Homo sapiens: one gene and its partners. The protein of the gene in region 3 purifies or fractionates together with the protein of the main gene of each other region. This does not show direct contact. Each region holds a gene or a part of one and is shown on either strand. Other genes may lie near its edges.

Evidence for each region.
Region 1: the proteins of ZRSR2 (region 3) and GPATCH11 purify together in Homo sapiens (affinity purification with mass spectrometry; 3 studies listed by BioGRID and IntAct, with this or other methods). This does not show direct contact.
Region 2: the proteins of ZRSR2 (region 3) and SNRNP48 purify together in Homo sapiens (affinity purification with mass spectrometry; 3 studies listed by BioGRID and IntAct, with this or other methods). This does not show direct contact.
Region 4: the proteins of ZRSR2 (region 3) and U2SURP purify together in Homo sapiens (affinity purification with mass spectrometry; 3 studies listed by BioGRID and IntAct, with this or other methods). This does not show direct contact.
Region 5: the proteins of ZRSR2 (region 3) and PDCD7 purify together in Homo sapiens (affinity purification with mass spectrometry; 3 studies listed by BioGRID and IntAct, with this or other methods). This does not show direct contact.
Region 6: the proteins of ZRSR2 (region 3) and RNPC3 purify together in Homo sapiens (affinity purification with mass spectrometry; 3 studies listed by BioGRID and IntAct, with this or other methods). This does not show direct contact.
Region 7: the proteins of ZRSR2 (region 3) and RBM5 purify together in Homo sapiens (affinity purification with mass spectrometry; 3 studies listed by BioGRID and IntAct, with this or other methods). This does not show direct contact.

Annotation. Positions count from the first base shown.
Region 1 is NC_000002.12:37,090,983-37,095,059, reverse strand, and holds part of GPATCH11 (G patch domain-containing protein 11), read right to left. Parts: intron 3,145-4,077; coding exon 3,024-3,144; intron 2,920-3,023; coding exon of another isoform or gene 2,896-2,919; coding exon 2,805-2,895; intron 979-2,804; coding exon 865-978; intron 409-864; exon of another isoform or gene 300-408; intron 1-299.
Region 2 is NC_000006.12:7,592,747-7,596,823, reverse strand, and holds part of SNRNP48 (U11/U12 small nuclear ribonucleoprotein 48 kDa protein), read right to left. Parts: intron 3,091-4,077; coding exon 2,977-3,090; intron 2,726-2,976; coding exon 2,665-2,725; intron 1,798-2,664; coding exon 1,723-1,797; intron 1-1,722. UniProt on the Homo sapiens protein: Likely involved in U12-type 5' splice site recognition.
Region 3 is NC_000023.11:15,810,568-15,814,644, reverse strand, and holds part of ZRSR2 (U2 small nuclear ribonucleoprotein auxiliary factor 35 kDa subunit-related protein 2), read right to left. Parts: intron 1-4,077. UniProt on the Homo sapiens protein: Pre-mRNA-binding protein required for splicing of both U2- and U12-type introns. Selectively interacts with the 3'-splice site of U2- and U12-type pre-mRNAs and promotes different steps in U2 and U12 intron splicing.
Region 4 is NC_000003.12:143,035,958-143,040,034, reverse strand, and holds part of U2SURP (U2 snRNP-associated SURP motif-containing protein), read right to left. Parts: intron 4,054-4,077; coding exon 3,931-4,053; intron 2,857-3,930; coding exon 2,700-2,856; intron 1,928-2,699; coding exon 1,832-1,927; intron 1,142-1,831; coding exon 1,075-1,141; intron 1-1,074.
Region 5 is NC_000015.10:65,123,353-65,127,429, forward strand, and holds part of PDCD7 (programmed cell death protein 7), read right to left. Parts: intron 1-4,077. UniProt on the Homo sapiens protein: Promotes apoptosis when overexpressed.
Region 6 is NC_000001.11:103,524,191-103,528,805, reverse strand, and holds the start of RNPC3 (RNA-binding region-containing protein 3), read right to left. Parts: upstream 3,108-4,615; 5' UTR 2,736-3,107; coding exon 2,544-2,735; intron 1,112-2,543; coding exon 1,064-1,111; intron 1-1,063. UniProt on the Homo sapiens protein: Participates in pre-mRNA U12-dependent splicing, performed by the minor spliceosome which removes U12-type introns. U12-type introns comprises less than 1% of all non-coding sequences. Binds to the 3'-stem-loop of m(7)G-capped U12 snRNA.
Region 7 is NC_000003.12:50,105,843-50,109,919, forward strand, and holds part of RBM5 (RNA-binding protein 5), read left to right. Parts: intron 1-924; coding exon 925-1,022; intron 1,023-1,639; coding exon 1,640-1,727; intron 1,728-2,227; coding exon 2,228-2,305; intron 2,306-2,389; coding exon 2,390-2,462; intron 2,463-3,760; coding exon 3,761-3,846; intron 3,847-4,077. UniProt on the Homo sapiens protein: Component of the spliceosome A complex. Binds to ssRNA containing the consensus sequence 5'-AGGUAA-3'. Regulates alternative splicing of a number of mRNAs.

The DNA of each region.
Region 1 (4,077 bases), on a different chromosome or scaffold from region 3:
GTGGAATATAGGTTTTTCAAATTGTGAATGTTTTCCACAAAATTATTATACTCAAGTAAGCATACGAGTGTGTTTTCCTTTCTTGAATAATCTCCATTTCCTTTTTTTTTTTTTTTTGTGAGACAGGGTCTCGGTCTATCACCTAGGCTGGAGTGCAGTGGCGTGATCTTGGCTCACCGCAACCTCTGCCTCCCGGGCTCACGTGATCCTCCTACCTCAGCCTCCTGAGTAGCTAGGATTATTGGGTGCCCCACACCTGGCTAATTTTTGTATTTTTAGTAGAGACTAAAATACACTACCATGTTGGCCAGGCTGGTCTTAAACTCCTGACCTCAAGTGATCCACCAGTTTTGGTCTCCCAAAGTGTTTGGATTACAGGTGTGAGCCACCATGCCCGGCCTCCATTTTCTTTTGATTGTGTTTTTTTGTTGTTTATAAGTAGGAGAAAAAAGTACACATTAGAATGACTTGTAGAAGTTTTGCAGGAAATAAGGTATAAATTAAAATAATTTACATTTGTTGCTAATTCATCATCCAAACTGAAGCTGAGATGAGAGGACAAATGGAAGCTAAAGGGAAAAATTATATGTAAGTTTTGATTTGGGGTTAGTAAAGTAATCCTGCAATGCAGTACCTCTCAACCAGGGGTTATTTTTCCCCTCGGGGACATTTAGCAATGTCTGGAGAGGGTTTTGGTTGTCATAAGCAAAAGTGCAACTGGTATCTGGTGGGCAGGGGCCAGAGATGCTGCTAAACATCTTGCAATGCACAGGACAGCTCTCCACAACAACGGATTACCACAACTCAAAGTGCTAATGTTGCCAAGGCTGAGACACCCTATGAAGGAAATGGTGCAAAGCATACGCTTAAATCTTCACTCTTATATTCATCTTCATCCTGTTCTTTTTCTTCTTCATCTTCTTCAGTCTCCTCTTCAAGCCTCAACCAGTACCATGCTTCCCTGGGAACCTGAATATTCTGAAAATGCAGAAGTAGTCTCAATTAAACATACTAAACATAAGAGCATGACAAATATGTTCATGTCAACATGAATTCATTCTTTCAATACGTATTCACTGAGTGTGGCTTTAAGAGTAAAAACACTGGCCGGGCACGGTGGCTCACGCCTGCAATCCCAGCACTTTGGGAGGGAGAGGTGGGTGGATCACGAGGTCAAGAGATCAAGATCATCCTGACCAACATGGTGAAACCCCATCTCTACTAAAAATACAAAAATTAGCTGGGCGTGGTAGTGCATGCCTGTCGTCCCAGCTACTCAGGAGGCCGAGGCAGGAGAATTGCTTGAACCCAGGAGGTGGAGGTTGCAGTGAGCCAAAATCACGCCACTGTACTCTAGCCTGGTGACAGAGTGAGACTCCATCTCAAAAAAAAAGTGAAAACATTGTACCATGAACTATGGGGATGCAAAGTCCAATTCTTTAGAATTGTGCAGTTGTCTTTAAGTTCCTTCTGACAGTCTAGCAGGAAAGATAGGCTATGGGTACAAAATAATACATATATGCTACAAAATCATAAGTGCCATGAAATACATTCAAAGTAAAGTAATATGTAAGAACAGGAAAGTGAGAGATTGCTTCCAGTAATCTATATATAAGGGAAATTTTACAAAGCTTTTTGAGACTTCAAATGAAGTCATTTTATTTTCAGAGTACTTGAACCACTAAGATAAAAGCAAAGACAGAATTTATTTACTTATTTATTTTTTTTGTAGAGCTGGGGACTTGCTATGTTGTCCAGGCTGGTCACAAACTCCTGGACTCAAGCAATCCTGCAGCCTCGTCCTCTCAAAGTGCTGAGATTACAGACATGAGCCACCATGCCCAGCCAGAGACAGAATTTTTTAAAAACTATTCAAATTTGAACTAGATAGCATTCCACCTTGATTTTATTTTTGAGACAGGGTCTCACTCTGTCACCCAGGCTGGAGTGCAGTGGCATGAACATAGCTCAATGCAACCTCAACCTTCTGGGCTCAAGTGATTCTCCCACTTCAGCCTCCTGAGTAGATAGGACTACAGGTGTGTGCCACCACATGCAGCTAATTTTAAGATGTTTTGTAGAGATGGAGTCTTGAAATGTTATCCAGGCTGGTCTCGAACTCCTGGGCTGAAATAATCATCCTGCCTTTGCCTCCCAAAGTGCTAGGATTACAGGATTGAGCCATCATGCCTGGCCCACTCTGATTTTAATAGTTAGACATATATTAGATACTGAATAGGAACTGAAAATAGGCTATTCTTGTTAATCAAATATTATAAAGAACAGAATTTCTGCACATAATAGTCATAACTGATATTCAAATAAGCAGAGAACAATTAAATGTAAAATTTTATTTAACCCTTTTTGTTTTACTATAGTTAGTATAAAACTATAAAACTATAGTTACTATAAAACCCTGGGTTTTATAGTAACCCAGACAACTCAGGTTACTATAGTAAATAATAAGCCATTTTTATATCAATTGTCACAGATCAGAAGTGCACATTACATGAAAGCTTTAATGAGTAGATAAACCGGGCTTGGAGTTCTTAGTTTTATATATATATATAATATATATATTATATATATAAATACATAAAATATATATAATATATAAGACATATGTAAAAAATATATAAATATATATGATACATATAAATATATGTAATACATATATAAACATATAATACATATATAAATATATATAATACATATATAAAATATATATATATATAATAAATAAACGGGAAATCACAGGGGGTGCCAAAACACTTTACTAAACTGAAAGCTGGTAAAAGGCTTACTTTCTGGACATCCAGTTGTTGACAGGCTCGCTGGCTTCTTCTGAGATCTCCTTCTAGCTTCATTTCATCTTGCTTATTTTTAAGTCGCATTCTAATTGAAAGAAAAAATTGTAAACTAAAGGTCTACGTTATCTTTAACCATTTTATATGCCCAAGTACCAGAGAACATACCACAATAAAGAGGAAATAGAACCAAAACCAGCTCAAAAATAGTTTTACCGAAACTGTTCTGCAGCTTTTTCTTCAGCTTGGTTTTTCATGTGAATCTTTTTTCTGTAGCTTTCCAATTTTTCCTCTGCTTTCCGTTTTAATGATGCCTCATGACCAATGCCACTTTTCCCTATTCAAACAGAAAATTCTGATGAGAAACATCCTGACTTTGTGCTTCAAAACAAGACGATTTAACTATGTACAAATTAAATGCAATTCTCATTTGAGTACTATCACTCACAAATCATTTGAGTACACTAATAGTAGAAAACACTAGGGTTTTTTTTAAGCCCAAAACATAATCTGATTTTTACAAAGATTGTTAATCTCATCTTATAGTAATATTATAAACAATTTTTCAAATCAGAAAAACAGTATTAGCTGTTATAGTTTTATTTAAATATGAATAAAATATATCTTTTTCTCTTGAATTCATCCAAGTATTAAGCAAAACATTTGGTAGATAAATCTGTCTCAGAACACTTTTATTTTATTTTATTTTTATAGGGACAGGCTGGTATGTAGTGGCACAATCATGGCTCACTGTAACCTCGAACTTGTGGGCTCCAGGAATCGTCCCGCCTCAGCCTCCTGAATAGCAAGGACTACAGGTGCGTGCCACTACACCCGGTTAATTTTTTAAATTTTTTGCAGAGATGAGGTCTTGCTATGTTGCCCAGGCTGGTCTCAAATTCCTGGCTGCTTTTTTTTTTTTTTCCTTGAGATGGAATTTCACTCTTGTTGCCCAGGCTGGAGTGCAATGGCGCAATCTTAGCTCACTGCAATCTCTGCCTCCTGGGTTCAAGCGATTCTCCTGCCTCAGCCTCCCAAGTAGCTGGGATTACAGGCATGCACCACCATGCCCGGCTAATTCTGTATTTTTAGTAGAGATGGGGTTTCTCCATGTTGGTCAGGCTGGTCTTGAACTCCCAACCTCAGGTGATCTGCCTGCCTCGGCCACCCAAAGTGCTGGGATTACAGGTGTGAGCCACCACGCCCGGCCAACTCTTGGCTTTAAGCAATCCTTCTGCATCGGCCTCCCAGAGCAAAACAGTTTTAAGAC
Region 2 (4,077 bases), on a different chromosome or scaffold from region 3:
TACACTACCAGGGGATATGAGCAGAACCAATAGCAGAGGCCAAAAAAGGCTTGACTAGTCATAGCTCAGTAATCTCTCCGAATAAATAAAATGAGAGTCAACTGTCTCCCTCAAAGAAAAAAACCTGGAATTTCCCTGACAGGGACAAAAGTGGGAACCTCAAAACAAAAAATACAAGAAATGTGCTTCTGGCTGTTGTAGAGAACCCATGTAATATAGACAACTAAGGATAAGATGGTCTTTCTTCTGAAGCCATAGAGCAACTCTGAGAAATCAAGTCCAGATACTGGCTTAGAACAGTATTTGGTAAAGATCCTCAATTTCAATGAGGGAGAAAACCAACCATGACTACAGCCTGGTAAATATAATTCAGCTAGAAAAAAGAATGAGGAAAAAAAGGTAAGTTGTCCAGAGAAAGCTACCTACAGAAGGTTCAAAGAAGACAATGCAGAAATCCTTACAAGAGAAGCTGTTCAGGTTTTGGCTAGATGTCATATCTACATTCATTAGAAATTTAAACTTTTATTAACTCGTTTGTCTATGTGTGTTTTTTTTTTTGAGATGGAGTCTCGCTCTGTTGCCCAGGCTGGAGTGCAATGGTGCAATCTTGGCTCAATGAAACCTCCGCCTCCTGGGTTCAAGCAATTCTTCCTGCCTCGGTCTCCTGAGTAGCTGGGATTACAGGTGCTTGCCACCATGCCCGGCTAATTTTTGCATTTTTTAGTAAAGACAGGGTTTCGCCATGTTGGCCAGGGTGGTCTTGAACTTCTGACCTCAGATGATCCACCTGCCTCGGCCTCCCAAAGTGCTGGGATGACAGGCATGAGCCACCGTGTCTGGCCTATGTCTATGTTTTTGATGGATGAAGTTTTCTTTCAATTTCCTAAAAGCTTATGCTTAAAACTTCTAACCTACTCTCTGCTGAGGTTCCCAGGGAGAAACTCTTTAACCCAGCTCTAAAGCTGGGCATGAAAGGATCTATTAATATGAATCCTCTGAAATTATATGTAAAACTTTTGTGTTTGTACTTTTTTTCTGAGAAGGGGATCCCAAGCATTCATCACCTCAAACCAACTCACTTACTGGGTAGCAAGCAATCTGAGGGTAGCTGTGGAGACTAATCTCTTTTAGCCTAAGCCTTTTCTTTACACTGCATTTCAACACTCTAAAGAGAGGAAATCTCAAGAGTAAAAGAGCCTCACTCAGTGGCATTTATAGATGTTCCTTGACTTACATGGGGTTACATCCCGATAAACCCATCATAAACTGAAAATACCGTTAAGTTGAAAATGCAGCCCAGCGTCTGATAAAAGAATCACTAGTACTTAAAGTCTAAAACCTTGTGATTGTGTATTGTTTTCACAACACCATAAAATTGAAAAAATCCTAAATTAAATCATCATTAAGTTGGGACCATCTGTATTTACTAAATAATAATTTTTTTAATTAGCCACAAGACAATCTCACCTATAAATCGCCAGGTAATTCCAAAGGATGAACCCCTAGCTAAGATAGTGTCTTAGTGAGACTCTGGTGTATCTCAACAGGAAATATCTAACAAATGAAGTTGAAACGAAGCAAATTAGCCCAATGTTAAATGTAAAACTTTACCTTTCCCATGTAACAGTTTTCACAGGTTTTTCTTGAAGAAAATTAGTAACATGCTTATGAGAAAAATAATAATTTCATTCTTTAATTCACTTAAACTGTAATGCCACTTACTTTGATTATAACAATCACTGTCTTTCCCAACTGCAGTTCTAGCTTGTTTAATTATCTGGAATTGTGAGTCCTTATCTGTCAAAAAAAAAAAAATCCATAAATACAATATGAATCATCAGTGACCACAATTAAATTATTAACTGGTTTCTGATCCAAGCCCTTTGGGCACGTGGACAAACCTTCCAGAATCTTAAGAAACATCCACATCCCTGTCTATGAAATCTGAACACAGAATCCTTTCAGATTTATCTACAGCCCAGTAAGTAATCAGACTTCAAGCAGTTCATGCCTATAATTAGGCACGCAGCAGTAGCAGCGACAAATTTTACTGACCAATAATAGCTAACATTCTTGAAGCCTGTGCTGTAATGGTCACAACTCTGTGACCCTCTAGCTGACTCCAGCTAAGTGCCTGACACTATTCTAAGAATATTATATATATATATCACTTAATCTTCGCAAAGTGCTATTATAACCATCTCCATTTTATAAAGAAATTTAGGCAACAAACAGGTTAATTACCTCGCTGAAAGTCACATCTTTCATGATAAAAACAGGAGTTGAATCAGGACATTCTTTTTCCAGAGCCCAAGACTTTAACCTCTATATATGCTGTCAATCCCTGGAACACATGTCCATCTTCAGTCTCATCCTTCAATCTGTGTCACATGCTCAAATTTTTGTTGTAACTGAGAAAGAAGGTGTCTGCTCTACTATACAAAGCTTTGTAAGGTTTTCACTGCCTATTAATACAAGCCTGGTCTCTAAACTTCAGATTATGTGAATTAGTTGCCTTGTACATTAATTAATTCTACATTCTCTTAAGGTACTAAATGTCCTTGTCATAAGCATGCTTATACAATCCATTCTTTTCATAATGCAAAAATGAAAAATCAATATCTACACTAAGATATTTTTAAATTATAATAACTTAATACTTACTCAAAGTAATCGAAGGTATCTTCACATTTTCATAGAAAAACTCAGGATTATACATTTCATCCTGAAAAAAAAGAATCTTACTGTTCTTAAGTATCAGATAATTGACTATTTTAAGACTTGACCTAAACAATAGATTAGTATCACTTAATTATTTCTCACAATAATTTGTGCAATTAGGCAAGTACCAACCAACCCTTCAAGTAAGGGCTATTATTTTGTCAGTGAACCTCACATTGTAACTTCCAAAAATTGTGAATTAATGTGTAAAATGCATGACATATATGTATATATAATATAGTAAATATATGGTACCTCTTCTTCTTTGGTATAGCCCATTTTCCTCAATCTACAAGATGCCATGTGCTTTGCCAAAGATGATTTAGGCATGTGATGATTGGAATCGTATGGACATATCACAACTTCATCCTATAAAAATCAAACAGAAACAAAGAAAATAGGTACATAATATTTAAATAAATAATTACCATTAAATGTTTACCATTTAATTATGTACCAGTACTGTATAGTGCATCCTCTTCTACAGGCCTCTCTCAACCCCCATGTAGTTGTGTATTAAAGAAAAATAAAACTCCTTCAACCCCTAACTCCCTAAATGCCCCTGTCCTCTCTCCACTCCTTCAAAGCCTAACTCTTTGAAAGGTGTATTTACACTCACTGTCTAAACAACCTCACCTCACCTATAACGATTCCTCACTCATTGCCACCATCACCCCACTGAAACCAGTCAATAGGTCACTAATAACCTTGTTACTAAAGCCAAAAACATGTCACTGTCTTGTTTTATCTGAACTCTTGGAAGGTCACACTCCAATTGTCCATCTGTGATTCTGACACACCCCTCATGTTCTTTCTACCTCTCTGGCTTCTTCTACTTGGTCTCCTCTAAATATCCTAAATATCTGTCTTCCTTGCTCTATTTGTCCCCCTTTAGATGTTGGTTTTCATGTAAGTATTAATATAACCACTGACCTTTTGCTGTTTAATATATGCTTACTGAAAGATCTCAAAGCTACAACTCTCACTATACAGTGAGGACTCCCAAAATTTAGATCTTTAAACCTTGTTTCTCTCCAGTACCGTATATTAAAGACACTAAAAGTTCAACACAAACAAAAATAAATTAATTATATTCATCATCTCCCAACCCTCAAATCTATTCCTTTTGTACTTTTCTATTTCAGTGAAAGGTCCCCCTTGCTCAAGCAAGAAACTACTTCTCCCTCATCACCCACGTCCAATCAATCACCTAGTCCTGCCAATTTAACTCCTAAATATTTCTGAAAATCCCTCAACATCCTCCATCCCCACTGCCACTTCCCCAACTCAGGGTATCATCAACTCTCTCCTGGAATACAACACCATCTCCTGACTACGCTCGCTCGCTCTCTCTCA
Region 3 (4,077 bases):
ATACAATTTGTTTTTGAGACAGGGTCTTGTTCTGTTACATAGGCTGGAGTGCAATGGTATGATCATACTTCACTGCAACCTTGAATTCCCCGGGCTCAAGTGATCCTTCTGCCTCAGCATCTTGAGTAGCTGGCGCATGCCATAGGCGTATGCCACCACACCCGGATAATTTTATTTTTGTAGGGACGGGGTCTCGCTATGTTGCCCAGGCTGGTCTCGCACTCCTGGCTTCAAGTGATCCTCCTGCCTCAGCCTCCCAAAGCTCTGGGATTACAGGTGTGAGCTACCATACCTGCATCATTTAATTCTTATTTAATGAAGGTGGCCAACCATTATGAAGAACAATTTTATTTTCATAGTTTAAACTGGACCAAGGCTAAGCTGACCAGGCTGTACCTGAGTAATATTTCAAAAATCCTTCATATGAGTTTACTTTCTTACTTCCTTCCTTCTCCTAACATACAATGTGGAGGAAAAATGTAGTTCAAGGTTCCAAATAAACAAAATTTTCCTGGTTAGGTTGCTAGTTAAAAATTGGTAAGACAAAAACTTTTTTTTTTTTTTTTTTGGCGAGGGGAGTCCACAGAATTTAGGAAGAAAGAAAGTTGAAGAATAGGACGTGTTGGGAAAAAACAACAATGGCCCTGAAATGACTAAATGTTTAATAATACTCACTTTCCATGTCTGTAATGTCTATCTAAGCACCTACTGAGATAATGCTTACAGAATGCCCAGCATACACCATGCTCAGCTCAGAAATGCTTCATCAACGTTCATTAACGTGAAATTTTCTATTTTCCAAATGACCTCCTGGATTATTCAATTAGAGACCTTGTAATTAGATCCCTCTTCCCAACTACTGATAGAACAAAGAGCAAAGACTCAACCTGACTGGCAACACTAACAGTGAATCAAAATGTTATAAGTATGAAGCATGCAGAGAATTAAACAAGGAACTAATTTAATGAGGTTAAAATTCTGCTCAAGGGATTCCTAGATCTGAATGAACTTGGCCCTAGTTCCCAGGATGTCAAATAAGCATTTGTCAGTTTTGGAATAGAACCAAAGTCCCTGTCTGGGGAAAAATCCCATCTGGCCTAAAGACAGTCCTTATAATCTAAGTGTATACAAAAGGCCAGCCCTATAGCTTTTATTGAAAACTCAGCTAAGAGAAGTGACATTTACGAAGGCAGTCTAAAGCTGTGGTTCCAAGCCTGTGTGGTTCTCAGAATTACCTGGAAAGAACTGAGATTTCTTACTTCCTACCCTAGACCATCTGATCAGACCTCAAGGGGTGGGGGACCCATATTTTCAAAGTAGCTCCCTACCTGGTCCTGAAGATCAGCCATATTTGGGAACCACTGGTTTAGGGCATAATATTTACCCATTATTCTGATACTTAAGTCAGTTTGCTGCAAAAACCCACAGTTGTTGGATATTACCTTAGGCCAAGGATGGCCAATAAATGGTGTGGGTATCCAAATGCCCCCTCGGGTATAGCTAACTGACTACTCCTCTTTTTCTTCTTCTCAGGGAAGTGCTCCTGGTACGCATTACCTTTGTCCTACATAGAATCCCCGCATTGCATGTTAAAGTGAAGCTGCAATCATTTATCGAAGGTCACTGTAAGAAACATCCTCATGAAAATTACATATGCAACTGTTATAAAGCATCTATTAAAGTTATTGTCCACCTTCCTATTTAATGTCTTTGTAAAATATTCCAAGGGAGAAACCTTTAGAATCTGGTGCCAGGAAAATTTCTGTCTTTCTAGAGATACCACTCATTCTTCCTTTTTGGTAAGAATGACAGCTTACTATCTGCTTGAGATGAATTCAAATATGGAGAAATAAAAACCTGGAGAAAATAACTCACTTTCTCTTCCTTTCCTTGCTTTCAATTTCCTTTACTTTCTCTAACTTAATGTGCTAGATCACGAACCTTCTTTAAATCACTTTTGGAAGTAAGTGAGGTATAAATAGACCACTAAGTTTTACCTTCCATTAGTAATTATTACCTTTTAGGAGAAAAACAAATAGATTCCCCTCAAAGCTGTGACTCCAAAAAATACCAATTCCAGCATGGCTCTAGAATTGAACTCTGTACTAATTACAAAAACAACCAGCCAAAGAAATGCTGAGGTTATGGAAGTGTTCCTCTGATGCTCTGACAAAACTTAACGACAGAACAGAACAGCTGTACGATCTGGAGCAAGTCACCAAGGCTCTCCATAAAAAGGGAACAGAGCAGTCTACTTGTCTAAAGGGATGGTGCTGGATTTTGTAACTGCAAATTTCGCAGAATTTCATGTCACAACTTATCACTTGAATGATGAAAATCTCCACACTGCTGTTATACTTTGATAGTTGTGATGGTAAAATTTCATATGCCTATGAAAATTGTAAGAAATGTTCGCAGCCAGGCGCGGTGGCTCACGCCTGTAATCCTAGCACTTTGGGAGGCCGAGGCGGGCGGATCACAAGGTCAGGAGATCGAGACCATCCTGGCTAACATGGTGAAACCCCATCTATATTAAAAACACAAAAAATTAGCCAGGCGTGGTGGCGGGCCCCTGTGGTCCCAGCTACTCGGGAGGCTGAGGCAGGAGAATGGCGCGAACCCAGGAGGCGGAGTTTGCAGTGAGCGGAGATCGTGCCACTGCACTCCAGCCTGGGCGACAGAGCGAGACTCCGTCTCAAAAAAGAATAATAATAAAATAAAATAAAATAAAAAAAAGAAATGCTCGCAAACTAATTTGACCACTGTCCATATTTCCTTGAAATGACTTGAGGAGAGATGGGATCTGAGAGCATGACGGGCCATTCCCTCTTCCCACAAGGTAGGGCCTGTCAACCAAGTTCTCGAAATCGTTTAAGACATCTCCCCTCCTCTCACTTATGCCCAACAAAAGGAGAATTAGGCCGGGAGCAGTGGCTCATGCCTGTAATCCCAGCACTTTGGGAGGCCGAGGCACGTGGATCACAATGTCAAGAGATCGAGACCATCCTGGCCAACATGGCGAAACCTCGTCTATACTAAAAATACAAAAAAAATTAGCCAGGTGTGGTGGCATGCGCCTGTAGTCCCAACTACTCGAGAGGCTAAGGCAGGAGAATCGCTTGAACCTGGGAGGCAGAGCTTGCGGTGAGCTGTGATCATGCCACTGCACTCCAGCCTGGTGACAGGGCGAGACTCCGTCTCAAAAAAAAAAGGGGGGGGGGTGAGAATCAAGAATCAGGCTACCACGGGTCTTAAATTTGGAGGAAATGTTAGAGATAGATCCTACATGAGGGATCCTGCAGCTGGAAAACCTTAAATGCAATTTGGTTCAAGTACCCATGCAAATGTGAACTTACATGGAGTCTCAGTTGTCTCTGAAAGGTAATTCACAGTGCATTTTTCTTTGGTGGGAAGTTTTTTACACCAATCATTACCATTTCTTGTTTAGATAAAGTGGATATCTGAGAAATGGTTCTAAAGGTATCAAAGGGAATAAAGTCTCTTTCCTTTTCTTAGTTCCCAGTTTTTCAAGAGGAGGCTTTCTACTAGTTAGCAGATCCCATGACTCTTTTCACAGACATTCCAGACATCTGCAATCCCACCTCTAAAATACAAAAGGACATACACACTTGACATTAGTGGCTCTCAATCCTAGGGCACACTAGAGACACCTGAGGACATTTTGAAACTAAGGCCACCCAAGTCCCTGGTATTCTTATTATTTATTTATATAATATTTTTATATAAATATATATAAATATATTATTTATTTATTTTACTTTTTTTTTTTTATAGATACCAGGTTTTACCATGTTGCCCAGGCTGGTCTCAAACTCCTGAGCTCAAGTGATCTGCCTGCCTTGGCCTCCCAAAGTGCTGGGATTATAGGTGTGAGCCACCGCGCCTGGCCCTGATATTCTGATTTACTCAACTTGAGGTAGGACATAATTTTTTAAAGCTTTCTAGATGACTCTAATGTGCATCCAGGGTTGGGAACCACTGTTCTTAAAAAATGAAAAATGGTGTGAACGCTTAAATTCAAAAAGAAAAAGGAGAGAACCATAGAGAAGGATATAT
Region 4 (4,077 bases), on a different chromosome or scaffold from region 3:
TTCAGAAAACCACTGTTTTAAAGCAAACTGAACTAAACGGTTCTCAATTTGTGTATTCCTAAACAGCCTCAGATAGGTATTTCCATTAGCAAGCCACATCTATAACATTATGTAAATATTTTGTCATCATCATTGCTGACTTGTTCTAATCACACCAACATTTCTGAAAAAACATCATTGTAGACAAGTTTTCACCATCGTATCAAACTGTGTTTCTATAGCCTGCTGATTGATCACATTTTCCCAACAATCCAAATGCCCATTTATTAAATCCACACAAATGCCCATATTGTGCTAGGACACACAGGGGTTTTCTCTTTGTTCCCACTTCCATTGGAGAATAGAAGAACGCAAAATTTTTAAAGACAGTAACCTGTGCTTTGTGTTTGTGATACCATCTCTTCCTACTCATTTAAAAAAAAAAAAAAAAAAAAATTCAACTCCCTTTGCAATGATTTTAAAAAGTGTCAAGAACTTCCTAAAAACTGCCAATACAGACTTGCAGGAGAATCTGAGAGGAGAGATTCCTACAACCACACAGTGTCAAATACAAAAACAATTTTGGGGTGATTACCAAACAGCAAAATCAAAATTATTATTTCTCTATATTTCAAAAGAAAAGATTTTTTCCTTTGTATTCATTCTTAGTTCTTCTGAAAGGTTTATATTTAAATAACACAATGGCCATAATGCAATCTTTTTCTTAGAATGTACAATCCAAAAGAAAGGAGTATAACCTTTCCTATTCACATTTTAAAAACCACTTTTTATGGAGCCCAAAACAGTATTTGATGGCAAAGGTTTGAAAAAAATGCAGTTGACCAATTAGTAACTACAAAGTGAGAATATAACCTAGCGTAAAAAACTCAAAAGCAAAATGAAACCAGATCCATCAAGACCAGAAAACAAAAGCTCTTTATTCACTGGAAAACCAATGGAGAACTAAAAATGATCCTCTCCCAAAATTTTTTAAGAGTGAAGTTTTCCACTTCACTATTATTTCAACTATATCTCTTAATGAAAAGGGGAGTGTATATGAACAAGAAACAGTATATTCAAAACTTAGATTCTTACTTTTGATTTTCTTCTTCTTCTGATTCTTCATGCTGGTCAAATAATTCCCATTTAGAAGTTGTAACAGCTGAATGAAAGGAAAAGGAGGATGTAATTCCACGAGGTAAACTAGCATTTTTTCAGTAGTACAGTGGAAGCTCAAGCTTTAGAATTGAAAAGTTTATATTACAGAAGTTTTTTTAATCTATGTTTATCAATTCTCTAAATAGTTATTTCTATATGCCAAATCTCTTTCCTCACACCTACAATATAATTCAAATTCATGAAGTGACGAATAATGTCATCCTTATTTCTGTGTTGAATATTAAGATTTATTTCATTAGAACCTACAAATAGCAACAATTAGATTATTAGCACTAGGATACAGGTCTAAGTAAGTGTGAAAGACAGGTCTAAATTGCATCTAATCAGTCTAGCATTATGGGAGGGTCAAAGCTTGGTTTCTATGAAACTGACCTCTATGTAGATTTCTACGTAGGTACAGCTTCCAATCTACATTTGCTACTAAAATGCCTTAACCTGAAAGGTTTTCAGTGATATCTCATTACTCTCAAAGCTTCCAAACTGAAGGACCTAAGAAAATTGTAACAGCAACACCAACCACAATAAAAGCATACATTAGACACAAAATATGACAACATTGAGCATTAAGGTTAAAACGTGTTATAAAACATAAAAGGAAAACATATATACAAGCACACCAATAATTAACGTACAAGTACTTAATTTAAAAAATATTTATTTTACTTTTACTCACCCTGTGCTTCCAATTCAGATTCATCCACAGCTTCCCATTTTGATGGGGCAACTTTAAATATAGGCTCATTCTTTTTTGAGTCTTCAGTTGCATCCACTATTAGGGAAAGATAAGCCATTAACCCTGACTACTAGTGGATGACCCGAAGTATTACATTCATGGGTATTCACCATATTATTAAAAAGCAAAGTAAAATAAGGACACAGATGGACAAATAGTAATACTAAGAACAAGGACTATGACTAAACCAATTCTCTGCATCTGAGGGCAATATTTTTAACAGTATATATATCAATTCAGAAAATACAGGTTAGTAATATATTAAGCAAGTGAAGAAGTTGAGAAGTAAAACAAATCTTTAATATCTTTACCTAATCTCTGAAATATAAAACTGCATACATTATTCAATATTTAAACATATAATTCAAATGTACCAAAGAGCTGTCTACAGTTCCTATTTTCAAAATGATTTTAGGCAGCTAGGAAAACTGAAGTTGTAAGTTAGAAAAACTAATAAAAACTGATAAAACCAGGTACCTAGGATCATGCATAACTGAGCACAAGATTTTGCCTATAATTTCCTGACAAGACAAAAAGAGAAACTTGCTAATATTATAGGAGGCTGATTGTCCCAGCAAAGAAATGTGACCAGAAAAAAATGCTTCTTCTTGGCCTTTTATATACATAGCATACAAATAAATGTATTACTGGGTATATGAATTTTGAAAAAAATCAGAAATAGAAAAGTTAATAACTTGATACGTTCATGAGAAACTATAACCTTTTTCCATATCAGCATGTATGGAAATTAGAGTTTTGGTCACCAAATGTATTAGCTAGATTTAATCAGTTTGAAATCTGAACTTACAAGGCACTCCATCAAGATCATCATCAAGACTTTTTATAGGGACTCCATCAAGATCATCGATGGGAGTAGCATCAATAGGAATTCCATCTACATCTTCCAGAGGTGCACCATCAAGCTCTTCCTCGATGGGGGCACCATCAAGGTCATCTGGAACATCCTATGGAAATGTGTACTATTATAACATTTTCCTTTGCTTGCTGAAGTCACATTGCTTGTAAGATTAATTTGTAATCCAGTACAAGCCAACATAACTGGATACCCACAATCTGAGGTACAATGTAAGAACATATTCTATCATCCAGTTTGCTAAAGAAGCAGTCAGTTGTGCATTTATCTAATATTTACCAAGTGCTCACTGGTGCCAGGTACCTTGTGAGGCAATGATGAGCAAAAACAAGTTTGGTCCCCCTGTTATAGAGCCTGGTAAAGGTTTTTGCTGTTGTTTTGCAGGGGTGGGGGAACCAGGAAATCAGATCATCACAACAATATATACTTATCTGTAACTATGGTAACTGCTACAGCAAAAGGGCGTATCATACTATTAGCATACTAAGTTTCACTTAAAGAGGTCAGAGAAGGCTAAGGTTATGTTTGAGCTGAGATCTGAAGGATCTCAGGTGAAGATAAGTCCCAGAAAGAGGGAAGGACATGTACAAAGTCCAATGGTAGGTGGAAACACACATTTAAGAAACTGAAACAAGGACCACGTGGGTTGCAACAGTAAGGCCAATTAGGAAGATCCTGCAGGAGTGAAAGTGAAAACATAATAGCTTGACTAGCATGGCAGAATTAAACATTAAGGATTCAGTAATTATTTAGGAGGTAAAAAAGAAAAAAAACAACAGAATGGTGATGTATATCTGCTATCATGTGATGCATCTTTTCATGCACATATTTTACTTATATAGCTATCTTTAACAAAATAAAGTCATGCTATACATATTGCTCTATTACTTGCTTATTTTCTACTATTAACAATATATCATAACTCTTATATCATTAAATAAAAAAAACACTCACCAATTTTCACATAAGGACACAAGACAGAGAATTCCTGTTACATGTAATTTTGACTTCTGGGTTCCAGCAATAAAAATCCACTACTTAATGGTAAGCAATAGATATTTTTCACAAAGAAATGTACCTCACATATGTAACACAGAACAACTCCAAGAAACCTCCACCCCAGAAACGAATTTTAAAAACAACCAGACAAATACAGACTGCCTACCTCTGTTTCCTTTTCTTCAATAATATTTACAAGTCCTAAGAAAATATTTTGTAGTTTGATCAAAAATGGTTCTGGATAAATTGCCCAATCTTCCCATGCTCTGAAGCAAGTCATTACCCGTTGCTAAAGAAACAGGAAACAGACAAC
Region 5 (4,077 bases), on a different chromosome or scaffold from region 3:
AATTTCTGTATTTTTAGTAGAGACAGTGTTTCACCATGTTGGCCAGGATAATCTTGATCTCCTGACCTCATGATCCTCCCACCTCGGCCTCCCAAAGTGCTGGGATTACAGGCATGAGCCACCATGCCCGGCCCTTCAACAGGGTTTTAACAATTTATGCTGCAACTTGTGTTATACAATAGTGCCAGCTTTGAGCACTAAATTTTCAGTTTGGGCTGATAAATGGCATAAATAATGGTTTCTCAAGGTTAGTAGTTCTGTTTCTTGTAAAGTTGTAATTTGGAGGTAGGATTCTTTCCTCCTTCAACCACTACAGCTAAGTGGTTGTGGAACTCACTCTCAAGGCTAACATTTCTCTAGATGATTTTCTCCTAACTGCTTTGCTTCTACAGGTTTCCATTCACTCATTCTCAACTACAGAAACACTACAACTCAAATTTATCTTCTACTAAGTTGCCAGGCCAGTGTTTTTCAAGTATACACAAAATTCTTATACACTGACAAATTTAAGCTGTCACTCTGTTTTATAATAATCTAACGGTTTTGTTTCATTTCTTTACCTTTACAGGTAAATATTTTAGATTTTGTAAGCCATACAGTCTCTGTTGCAACTACTAAAATCTGTCTATGGCGAAATACACAGATACTCCATCATCCTATGTTAGCCTAAAGACCCCATGAAGAGATGTAGGCTGCTGAGCCTGGGCCACCAACCCACATCTCTCTCGGCCCCTCACTGATCACTCCCTGGTCAATGTAACATATTCCCTCAGAAATGGCACTCCTGGGGCGGGAGTGGTGGCTCACACCTGTAATCCCAACACTTTGGGAGGCTGAGGCGGGTAGATTACCTGAGGTCAGGAGTTTGAGACCAGCCTGACCAACGTGGTGAAACCCCATCTCTACTAAAAAAAATACAAAAATTAGCTGGGTGTGGTGGTGCATGCCTGTAATCTCAGCTACTCTGGAGGCTGAGGCAGGAGAATCGCTTGAACCTGGGAGGTGGAGGTTGCAGTGAGCCGAGATTGCACCACTGCACTCCAACAGGGGCAACAAGAGTGAAACTCCGTCTCAAAAAAAAAAAAGAAAGAAAGAAAGAAAAAGAAAAAGAAACAGCACTTCTCACACAGTCTTCCTCCTGGCACCATCTAGGTTCCCTCCACTTCTACCACTCACTGTCCACCTAGTCCTGCAGCTCCTAGACACCAATGCCTTTGCCTCTATTCCCCTTTAGCCACATGCCTGCAGTCCTGTTCAGTCTGTGGACCTTGGCATTATCAGAAAAAACTTTCTGCCTCTTAAATCTTAAACTTGATTATTCTCTTATCCAACTACAACTTTCTCCCTTATAGTACTTTTACTTCCTTCTCCCCAGAGACCCATTTGGCAGCTTCATCAAAACCTCCGGACCTGATGTATCAGATTCTATCCTTCTGCTACTCCTTCGCCACAAAACTAATGGTCACCCCACAAAGCAAAACCCCAACAGCCCCGTGCTCTGTGCTCACCTGTCAGCTACAGTACTACTGGAAGAGGTCATTTGATTGTGTCATCCATTGCCAATATATGTCAGCTGGACCCATAGCACCCCCTGCAACCATCTTCCACAAGTCTCTGTTGGCTCTCACCCATTCTTCACAGCAATTAAATCAAACCTTCACTGCTCTCCTAAAGCCCCACTTGTCTACTGGCGCTCAGCAAACCATTTACCCTGTTTCCCAGAGAAAACAGGCCAGCAGACAGGAAATCCCTCAAATATCTGTCCCCATTTACACACTCATGTGCATCACTACCTATCTTCATCTCCTTCATTTTCATGCTTGTGTAAGATGGGTCCTTCTTCACTTAAGTTAATCCCTCCACCTGGGATCTGAATCATCCTACCTTCCATGGGACCTTGAGCCATCAACTATTCTTCCTGCTTCTCTTTGACCCTTCCCCTTCTACTCACTCCTCTCAGCAATTTTAACCATGCTTAAGTTTTCCCCATGACCCAAAGACACACAACACCCCTCACCATCACCACTACCACACACCTTGCCAGATACTGATGTTGCTCTTTCCTTTTCTTCACAGGCAATCTTTTAATAAGTTGAATTATCTGTTTGCTTTTCTTGTATCATATTCATTCTCTAACCAACTGTAGTCTGGCTTCTACCCCCACCACTCCACTGAAATGCCCCTAGCATAGGTCACTAATGACCGGTTGGATACTAATTCCCATGGATGTTCCTTATTTCTTGATAATAAAAAGAATAATAATATGAAACATGTATATAGCATTTACTATGTGCCAGGACTGTTTTAAGTACTTTACACATATTTATTAATTTAATCCTCACGACACCCCATGGGTAGGTACTATCATTACTCCCTTTTTGCAGATGAGGAAACAAAGGTTCAGAGAAGCTCAAGTAACCTGTCCAAGTGTATTAATCTATTCTCACGCTGCCAATAAAGATATACCTGAAATTGGGTAATTTATAAAAGAGGTTTAATTGACTCACAGTTCTACATGGCTGGGGAGGCTTCACAATCATGGCGGAAGGTGAAGGAGGAGCAAAGTTATATCTTACATGGTGACAGGTAAAGAGGGCGTGTGCAAGGAAACTCTCCTTTATAAATCCATCAGATCTCATGAGACTTATGATCACAAGAACAGCATGTGAAAGACCTGTCCCCATGATTCAATTACCTCCCACCAAGTCCCTCCGACGACATGTGGGAATTATGGGAGCTACAATTCAAGATGAGATTTGGGTGGGGACACAGCCAAACCATATCACCAAGACTACACAATCTCTCTCTAAGCACTTGCCACTTTCCAGAAGGAAGCAGGGAGTCTATCTTTTCCTCCCATCTCTCTGACCTCTCTTGGTCTCTTTTTTGCTCTCTTCATCTTCTACCTTGATTTTGACATTCCCTATGATTTTGTCTTTTTGGCCCTCATCTCATGCTGTACAATCTCCTTAAGGTCATTCTGACTCATGGCTACATGCTAATGAACTCTTATCCAGGATGTACCACACACACCTCAAACTCGACAGGTCCCCAACTGAACTTGTCAACCCTAAACCTGTTCCTCCTCCCTTGTTTTCCTTCTTAATTAGAATGGTATCGGCCAGGCACAGTGGCTCACACCCTTAATCCTAGAACTTTGGGAGGCCAAGATGGGAGAATCGCTTGAGCCCAGGAGTTCGAGACCAGCTTGGGCAACATGGCGAAACTCTATCTCTACAAAAAATTTAAAAATTAGCCAGGTGTGGTGGTGTGCACCTGTAGTCTCTACTACTCAGGAGGCTGAGGTGGGAGGATCGCTCCTGCCTGGGAGTATAAGGCTGCAGTGAATTATGATTGCACCACTGCACTTCGGCTTGGGCGACAGTGCAAGACCCTGTCTTTTAAAAAAAAAAAAAGCAAAAAAAAAAAGCTATCTTCACTTATTCAGTAGATGAGGCTAGAATCTGGAAGACATTTCATTGTTTTTCCCTTTAGTTCCTGTACTCTGAGTTCCTTAAATTATTTATTTATATGTACATGGGTATATACACATATACCTTTATTCATTATCTCTCAATTCTTTGACTTGAGAATTATTCACTAATAATTCTGAATTACTCAATTATTCACTATCACTTGAATTACTCATTACCTCTCAATTCTCCTACACACTGACGTCACTCAGCTTATGCTTCCATACTACCCGTGCCCAATAGCCTTACCCATCTCTCTGCCCTTCTCTCTCTCTCCTGGATGCTCCAAAACTTTCTCTGCTCTACTGGCACTGATCTTTGCCATCATTTCACTTAAAAACTTTCAGCGGGGCCAGGCGTGGTGGCTCACGCCTGTAATCCCAGCACTTTGGGAGGCCGAGGCAGGTGGATCATGAGGTCAGGAGATCGAGACCATCCTGGCTAACAAGGTGAAACCCCGTCTCTACTAAAAATACAAAAAATTAGCCGGGCGCGGTGGTGGGCGCCTGTAGTCCCAGCTACTCGGGAGGCTGAGGCAGGAGAATGGCGTGAACCCGGGAAGCGGAGCTTGCAGTGAGCCGAGATTGCGCCACTGCAGTCCGCA
Region 6 (4,615 bases), on a different chromosome or scaffold from region 3:
TACTTTAACTGCTCCTTCCCATTCTTCTCTCCTAGCTTATTATCCTTTGGGCAAACATATCTATTCACATGGTTGAAGAATCTTTCCATTCTTCACCTTGCCTCAGCTCTCATTAATATTTTTAAATATTTCCATAAAAGTAGCCCAATGACCCCTCCAAGTTAACAGATGACAAGTGAATTCATCCTATGCCTTTGCAAACATCCTCTGGATCCTCATGTCAGCTAATATAACAACCCAAATAACTCAATCCTCAATCTAAATATCCTGAACTATTCTCTCTCAACCCCTATATTATAAAACCTACAAACTCAATCTCTATTGAATATATATTTACTTCCCCCTTTGTCTTCTTACTGTCTTCTTCAGATAGTTATTCTTGCCTTGGCCATTATAACAGCCTTCCATTTGGTCTCCTACCTCTAATAATTCTGCACATCCAATCCATGATATGAACTATACCAGATATCTTTAACAGGCCTGATCATATTATGAGCCAGCTCAAAAGTATCAAGTGTCCACCTACTAAACCAAACTCAATACCTCTCTCCCAGACTCAAATCTATTTTTCAAGTTCCATTTCCATCTCAACCCTTAGCTCCTGCTCCACTTATAACTTCCAATGTCTCACAGCTTTATTTGGTGTTCTGCAAGCCCAGAAGGCCCATCTCCACTTGTTTCCTTCTGAAAAAATCCAATTAATCATTAGACTTCTAGCTAAAAGATCACCTCCTGTGAATGATTCCCTGGCATTATAAAGAAATGTATATTCTCCTTTTAACACTTGAAACATCTTACCTTGTAACAGTCACAGAGATATTTATCAATCTAAATCATTTAGAAATTGTTATTTTAATTACATACGCAGTTAGTTTTTCTTTATAGATAATCTACTAAAGGACTGGGCAAGATCTGCCAACTGACAAATCAAATGTAGTCTGTTGGGGAAACTGTTGGAATACAAACGCTTTTGCTTCTTAAAAACCACAGTTAAACATTATCTGAACCAAGATTGTATAAGAGGATCCTGTTGACAACTTTAATCGTCAAGAAAAAGTCATACCTTTATAGCTGCTTTTTCATTAGGGAATGTGGCAAAAGCTGTATGTTTCTGAAACAGAGTTAAGGTACAAATTACTTCCAATATAATTTCAGTTTCTCACAAAGAAATCTGACTTTTTACCAGTGGAGTAATGTGACATGTTAATAAAATCACGGGAAAGGATGAAAACTCAAGACCATTTAACTGATTACTAATTTCAGTCCAGTGGTTTTCAATACTTTTTGAGTCAGACTTGAGATGAAAGCTATGCAACCTCTATCATATAAAGACACACGTTTTACACATGCAAATAGTTCAAAAGACCAAAAGTTTAAAGACCTGTTCTACACAGAGGGTCACTTTTAACCAACTAAAAATTTATTTCCTTCATTTATGACAGATCTAAAGATTTTAAACTTTCCTCTATACATAACAATGCGTAGTTTAAAAACATTCACCAACAGAGAAATCGTTCTTCAAGGTGCATATTTCCTTTGTGCTTTATCTTTGTAATAATGTTCAATGGGAGAAGTCTATTTTTAAACATAAATTATACGGATTTTAAAAACCATCAGAAAAGAAACACAAATCAACAGTAAAAGAATCACTATGCTAAGGAAGAGCTCTGGTCAATGCTTATTAAAAGTTACTTTAATAATTATATCGCACATTCTAATTTTGTCTAATCTGATACACGATGACCTGATGTACTTAAATTGAGCCATATATAATTTTTTTTTTTTAATTTGCAGGCATAAGTGACATTTAAACTGATCAAAATTGGTCTTTCTTCTAATTCAGTAACTCTCAACTTGGGCTGCACATTAACATTAAAATCACCTAGGGAAACTTTAAAACCACTGAGTCTTGCACCATCGCTATTCCTATTTTAATGAAGAGAAATCTAAAATATCTTTGGATATAAAGCAAAACAAAGTAATTGTGTAAATTCCTACACAGGTACTCTTAACAGCCCTAAAAAATTGTTCCCTAAAAGATGTCATCGGGAAATTTTTATGAAAAGCCTCTTTTTCTAGTTGAAATTCTGCATTTAATTTACGCAAGTCACCAATGTAGCTTCTCCTCTATTTTAATGAACGATTTAACATTGGCTTATAAATGAAGTAGGACTTTAAAAAATCCCTTGATGCACATTTGTAAGAATACTCTTGAGTCCAGGAGAAATAACCCCAAATTCAAAAAAGTTGTGAGGCTCTCAGGATGGATCCGAAAACTCAATATAACTAAGCTAATTTCCATTCTTCTGCTTTGTCGTTCTCACTTGCCCTTTTCTGCAGTGCTATGACTAATCCAGACTCGAGCCGATTAAAACTCCACTTCGCAGAGCAGATATTTTGATAAAAAAGAGGTAGGATGGGGGAGCTCTCATCACACAAGTCCATCTTCCCCACTCGTTTCCATTTTACTCTTGTCAGCGCTCCCCCTCCCCGGTCACTTCCCAAATGCCTTCCCGGGAGACTCCGGAGGGGCGCGCCCTTACCAGTCGCCCCTTATCTGACAGGACCCGCACAGACTGAGCCCCGAAGTACTTCAGCAAGTCCTCTTTCTCCTCAGCAGTAAGCTCAGCCGGCAGGTGCCTGACCAGAAGGGTTCGGTCGCCCCGAGGCGGGGAAAGCGAGGAGGAGCTCGTGCATCCCCTTGATATCGCAAGCGGCTGCTCGGGAGCTGCCATTTTCCTTGGAGAAGCAAAAACAGAAATCGTGGGAAGAAGTCTCAGTCAAAATCGCGGCATCAACACAAGCTGGGAGAAATATTTTTTCCGCCTCGCGCTAAGGATTCTGGAAACCAGGAAATACCGAGAAAGAAAGTCACCTTCTCGCGAGAACTGCGCCACCGAAAAGCGGCAACCCTTCGAAGACTCTTCGGGGAAGGGCGCGGTGCTAATGATTTAAATTCCAGGGGTCTCCGGAAAGACTTACAAGCAAAAATTGGCCCAGAGATGTGCGAGGGTTAACACAAGTTGTCAATCAAAGAAGGAAACAGGAACCCCAGCCACTTCAGGGAAAGAAGGTTGACGCTCAAGGACAAGAGGACTCACGACTGCGCATGTGCGGGCTGGGACCGTCACAGGGCGGGGCGGGGCGCACGGCGGGGCGGGGCGCACGGCGGGGCGGGGCGCACGGCGGGGCGGGGCGCACGGCGGGGCGGGGCGCACGGCGGGGCGGGGCGCACGGCGGGGCGGGGCGCACGGCGGGGCGGGGCGCACGGCGGGGCGGGGCGCACGGCGGGGCGGGGCGCACGGCGGCGAGCGCTATCTGGAGCTGACCGTGCGGCTCTTAATCCCTGGCCTTGGGAAAGTGAATTGGCCTGAATAGCAAGGAGGAGAACTTGGGTGTGGAAATACCGGGTATGTTCTTACAGTATTTAGATGGTAAAATATAAAGCTAGCCAGTTATTCTGTCAACTCATTAGACACCATTGTAGGGAGGAGAACTCAGTTTAAGGGGCAAAACGTTGAGAGTTCAGACTTTTTTCTTGAATCAGTAGGCATTTAGCAGACGGATAGGCCCCTGCCAGGGTTCATTTCGCAGAAATGGCAGCCTCTAGGGAGAGGTAACCTAATAAATAAATTATTGCATGTGTGTGTATGTGTGTGTGTGTAGGGGTGTGTGTGTGTGTGTGTGTGTATGTGTGTGTGTGTGTAGGTGTAGGTACTTTTCTCCCTATTTTACAGCTGAGGACACTGATGTACAAAGAGGTTAAATCACACAGCTAGAAAGTGGAAGAACTAAGTTTTGACCCTTGGTGTTCTGACTGGGGGTCTACATTCTAATCCACTGTTCTGCCTAGATTCTGAATGGAGTGAGGCAGGGATCATCCCCGGAGGGTCAGGAATGTACCCCTCACCCCATACAGAGAGGGCCTTGAGGATTCTAAAGAGAGGTTTTATGCTAGATGTAGCTGCTACAGTCTGGAGAACCAGAGTTCCTCTTACAGTTCTTTTTGCCACTTAAATAAATGTTAGAGATACAGCAGTAAGCAGTATACCAGCAATCTGCTGTCATCCCGCATTGGTTGGGGAAAAGGAGAGAGACAGATATTAATGAAAACTAGAAGACAAACATGAGAAGAACCTTCCCCACACACCCACCAAAATATCAGATAGGTAGAGCCAGACCACGTAGACGCTGTAGATTTGTTAGGAGCCCTTTTTATTTGAGGAACATTTAGAAACTGACAAATTCTTTAAGTAGGTGTGTGTTGAGGGGAGAGAATCAAAGTTTAGGTATGAAAATTTCTCCGGTTGCAATGCAAAAAACAGAAGCAGAAAGACCAGTTGGACTACTGTAGAAGTCTGGAGAAAAACACTACCATAATAGTTTGGTGAAAGTGGACATGTAGAGAAGGAACTGGAATTGAGATACGTTTTAGAAGTAGTTGATAGGAACTTGCAGATGAAGAATAGTAAGCAAGGATAAATTCTGGATTTTTGGCTTAAGCTAGATATTATCCATCTGTAGATGATGATGCCATTTACTGAATGTGAGAAGATTGACCAAGTATAGCTAGGTTAGAAACTGTAGTGGGACATTGGGAATAGAGGAACATATA
Region 7 (4,077 bases), on a different chromosome or scaffold from region 3:
GCTAAATTACAGGACTGATGACTTCAGTAAGTAGTAAAAATAATGTGTATACCTATAGGCAACTGGCAGAATTTTTTGAGCCACAGTTTAGTCCTTGGTACTTTGTTTTTTGTTGTTGTTGTTCTTTTTTGGGATGGAGTCTCACTGTCGCCCAGGCTGGAGTGCGGTGGCACCATCTCGGATCACTGCAACCTCTGCCTCCAGGGTTCAAGCGATTCTCCTGCCTCAGCCTCCTGAGTAGCTGGGATTACAGGTGCCCGCCACCACGCCCAGCTATTTTTTTTTTTTTTTTTTTTTTTTTTTTTTTTTTGAGAGGGAGTCTCGTTCTGTCGCCCAGGCTGGATGGAGTGCAGTGGTGTGATCTCGGCTCACTGCAAGCTCCATCTCCCCAGGGTTCACGCCATTCTCCCGCCTCAGCCTCCTGAGTATCTGGGATTACAGGCGCTCACCACCATGCTCAGCTAATTTTTTGTATTTTTAGTAGAGATGGGGTTTCACTGTGTTAGCCAGGATGGTCTTGATCACCACCTCTGCCTCCCAAAGTGCTGGGATTACAGGCGTGAGCCACCGCGCCCAGCCACGCCCAGCTAATTTTTGTATTTTTAGTAGAGACAGGTTTTTGCCATGTTGGCCAGGCTGGTCTCGAACTCTTGACTTCAAGTGATCCGCTCATCTCAGCCTCCCAAGTGCTAGATGTACTTTGTTTTAGATTGGTTTAGCATTTGCTCTTTTGGTAATACTGGAAACCTTCACATCTTAGAGGAAAGAGAGATATTCCTTTCTTGAGGTTTCATATCTGCAAACACAATAAGGAATTAATTGCCTTTTATTTTTTAATAGAAAACTACTTCTTTGAATGGGGTGGATGGTAGGGAGAGATTTTTAATTGCATTACACGTTTTTTTCCTTCACATTCTCCTTCAGGATGCTTCTCAGCTGCTTCAGATATTACAGAGTCTCCATCCTCCTTTGAAAATTGATGGCAAAACTATTGGGGTTGATTTTGCAAAAAGTGCCAGAAAGTGAGTGGCTTCATTGTCCTTATTTCAAACTACTGCATATGCACATTTGTACAGTGTGCTAACTGAACGCCAAGCCTGTGCCCCAAGTATGTTGAGACACTGTGATCCTCCCTGATTGCCAAGGCCAGGAGGGACACGTTTGTCTTCTTTTAGTGATTATTCCCTACTGTCCTGTGTAACCAGTTGATGAAGTTGCCTGAAATGGTTTCAGATCAGGAGAAAGGCAAGTATGGCAGATGGGTTGAGAACACATGCTTTGCAAACTGCAGCAGTATAGTGCTAACCCATCCAGAAATAACCCATTCCTTCCAGAACAGCGTGCTAATAATTTCATGTATATAGTGCTTAACTCTAACACGGTAAATTTCCCTTTTTTTAGTATCATTGCACATTCAAAAAACTCTTCGTTAGATGGCAGGTTACAAGGTAGAACAATGATACTACAGGGCCACTTGCTTACTGAGGAATTTCCCCATGAAGAGCCCTCCCCCTGTGAAATGTGGCCTTGCTGGCATTTGAGAACTGACAAAGGGTGGAGTGAATCAGTTGGTGGTATAGGGGCACTAATTGTGGGAATACTGTGATAGAATCACATGATTGGATCTTTGTGGTTTCAGAGACTTGGTCCTCTCAGATGGTAACCGCGTCAGCGCTTTCTCTGTAGCTAGTACGGCTATTGCTGCTGCTCAGTGGTCATCCACCCAGGTAAGATCGAGGATCTTTTTGCTCAAGGTAGTGTGGTGGTGGTGCCCAGATTCACAGACGTGACCTCTCCTGTGGTACTCGCAGTATGAGCTCTTTTCTTTTCTTTTTTTTTTTTTTTTTTTTTTTTTTTTTTTGAGACAGAGTATCACTCTCGTCACCCGGGCTGGAGTGCAATGGTGCAATCTTGGCTCACTGCAAGCTCCACCTTCCAGGTTCAAGTGGTTCTTCTGTCTCAGCCTCTTGAGTAGCTGGGATTACAGGTACCTGCCACCACGCCTGGCTAATTTTTGTATTTTAGTAGAGATGGGATTTCACCACGTTGGCCAGGCTGGTCTTGAACTCCTGACCTCAGGTGATCCACCCACGTCAGCCTCCCAAAGTGCTGGGATTACAGCCGTGAGCCACAGCGCCCAGCATCATGAGCTCATTTTTAGGGACTTCTGAATTTTTTTCCTTAATGCCTACTAAGTTTGTCTTTGTCTCATTTTGATGTTTTGTAGTCTCAAAGTGGTGAAGGAGGCAGTGTTGACTACAGTTATCTGCAACCAGGTCAAGATGGCTATGCCCAATATGCTCAGGTAGGTAGATTTTAGCAGCATCCACCTTATAGTCTTGCAGAGTGTGTCTGAGAATAGCAGCTTTAATGGTGGACTTTTCTTCAGTATTCACAGGATTATCAGCAGTTTTATCAACAACAAGCTGGAGGATTGGAATCTGATGCATCATCTGCATCAGGTAGTAAACTTCATCTCCCTTTTACCTTTTGTTTAAGCACTTACAGTTGAAGAAATATGATTAAATGTCCTAACTGGACCAAAAGCTACAAGTCCATTTCTCTGTAAGATTGTAGGGGGCATGGCCGGGCACGGTGGCTCACGCCTGTAATCCCAGCACTTTGGGAGGCCAAGGCAGGTGGATCACGAGGTCAGGAGTTCAAGACCAGCCTGGCCAACATGGTGAAACCCCATCTCAGCTAAAACTACAGAAATTAGCCAGGTGCGGTGGCAGGCGCCTGTAATCCCAGCTACTCAGGAGGCTGAGGCAGGAGAATTGCTTGAACCCGAGCGGCAGAGATTGCAGTGAGCTGAGATTGCGCCACTGCACTCCAGCCTGGGCGACAGAGTGAGATTCTGTCTCAGAAAGAAAAAAAAAAGAATGTAGGGGGCATATTCAGGGCTGTCATCATGTACCCAAGGTTCTGGGGAAGAATACGGTTATTTGTGTACACCAGGAGTTAATACAAGGTCTTAGAGACCATGTTGTGATGAGTTTAATTCTTGGAATTCAACTCTGTATTTCCCCTCTCTGTGTTTGGAGTCGTGAGTGCCCACGTAAGTTCAGGTGAGCAGAGAGGATGTGGCCCTGGAGACTGGTGCTCAGACATCAATCAGAAGAGCTACTCTAAGAAGCCTTGGCTTTAATTTTTGTTTCAGGCTTTAAAAAGCCTTGTGAGTTAAATCTTTCTCAACCCCAGAGCAAATATAGATCCTTTCTTCTCTTCCTTTTCTCTTCTTTTTTTTTTGAGACGGAGTCTCGCTCTGTTGCCCAGGCTGGAGTGCGGTGGCGTTATCTCGGTTCACTGTGAGCTCTGCCTCCCAGGTTCACGCCATTCTCCTGCCTTAGCCTCACAAGTAGCTGGAACTACAGGTGCCTGCCACCACTCCCGGCTAATTTTTTGTATTTTTAGTAGAGACGGGGTTTCACCGTGTTAGCCAGGATGGTCTCAATCTCCTGACCTCGTGATCGGCTCGCCTTTTCCTTCCAAAGTGCTGGGATTACAGGCCTGAGCCACTGCACCCGGCCTCTTCTCTTTTTCTTAGCCATGATACAGAATCCTTAACTTTGTATATCACATCTAGTAGAATTATAAGAAAATGAAAATGTCACAGATTCCAGGGTACTTAGTGGAAGTTAGCTTATGAAGAACTGACATATACAATGACAGAAGAAGGCTAGATTGGGCATTACAAATAAAGATGTTTGGGTTGGCGTTCAGTGCCTTGGCTTTCCCTAACACTTGTGTTTATCATCAGGCACAGCAGTGACCACCACCTCAGCGGCTGTAGTGTCCCAGAGTCCTCAGCTGTATAATCAAACCTCCAATCCACCTGGCTCTCCGGTAATCCTGTTGTCCTATATACAAAACTCGTGGCTGATGGGGAAATTTTGTTTTGCTATACAAGTATTACCCTTTCCTGTTGTATGAGCCAGGATTGAGTAATACACACTTCAACCTTATTTCTTTCTGTTGTTTTAAAATATTAATTTTATGATATATATGTGCATGTATATTTTAAATATAAAATTTCAACTGTGTATTTACACTTTATGCATGCTTGACCTTTAGAAA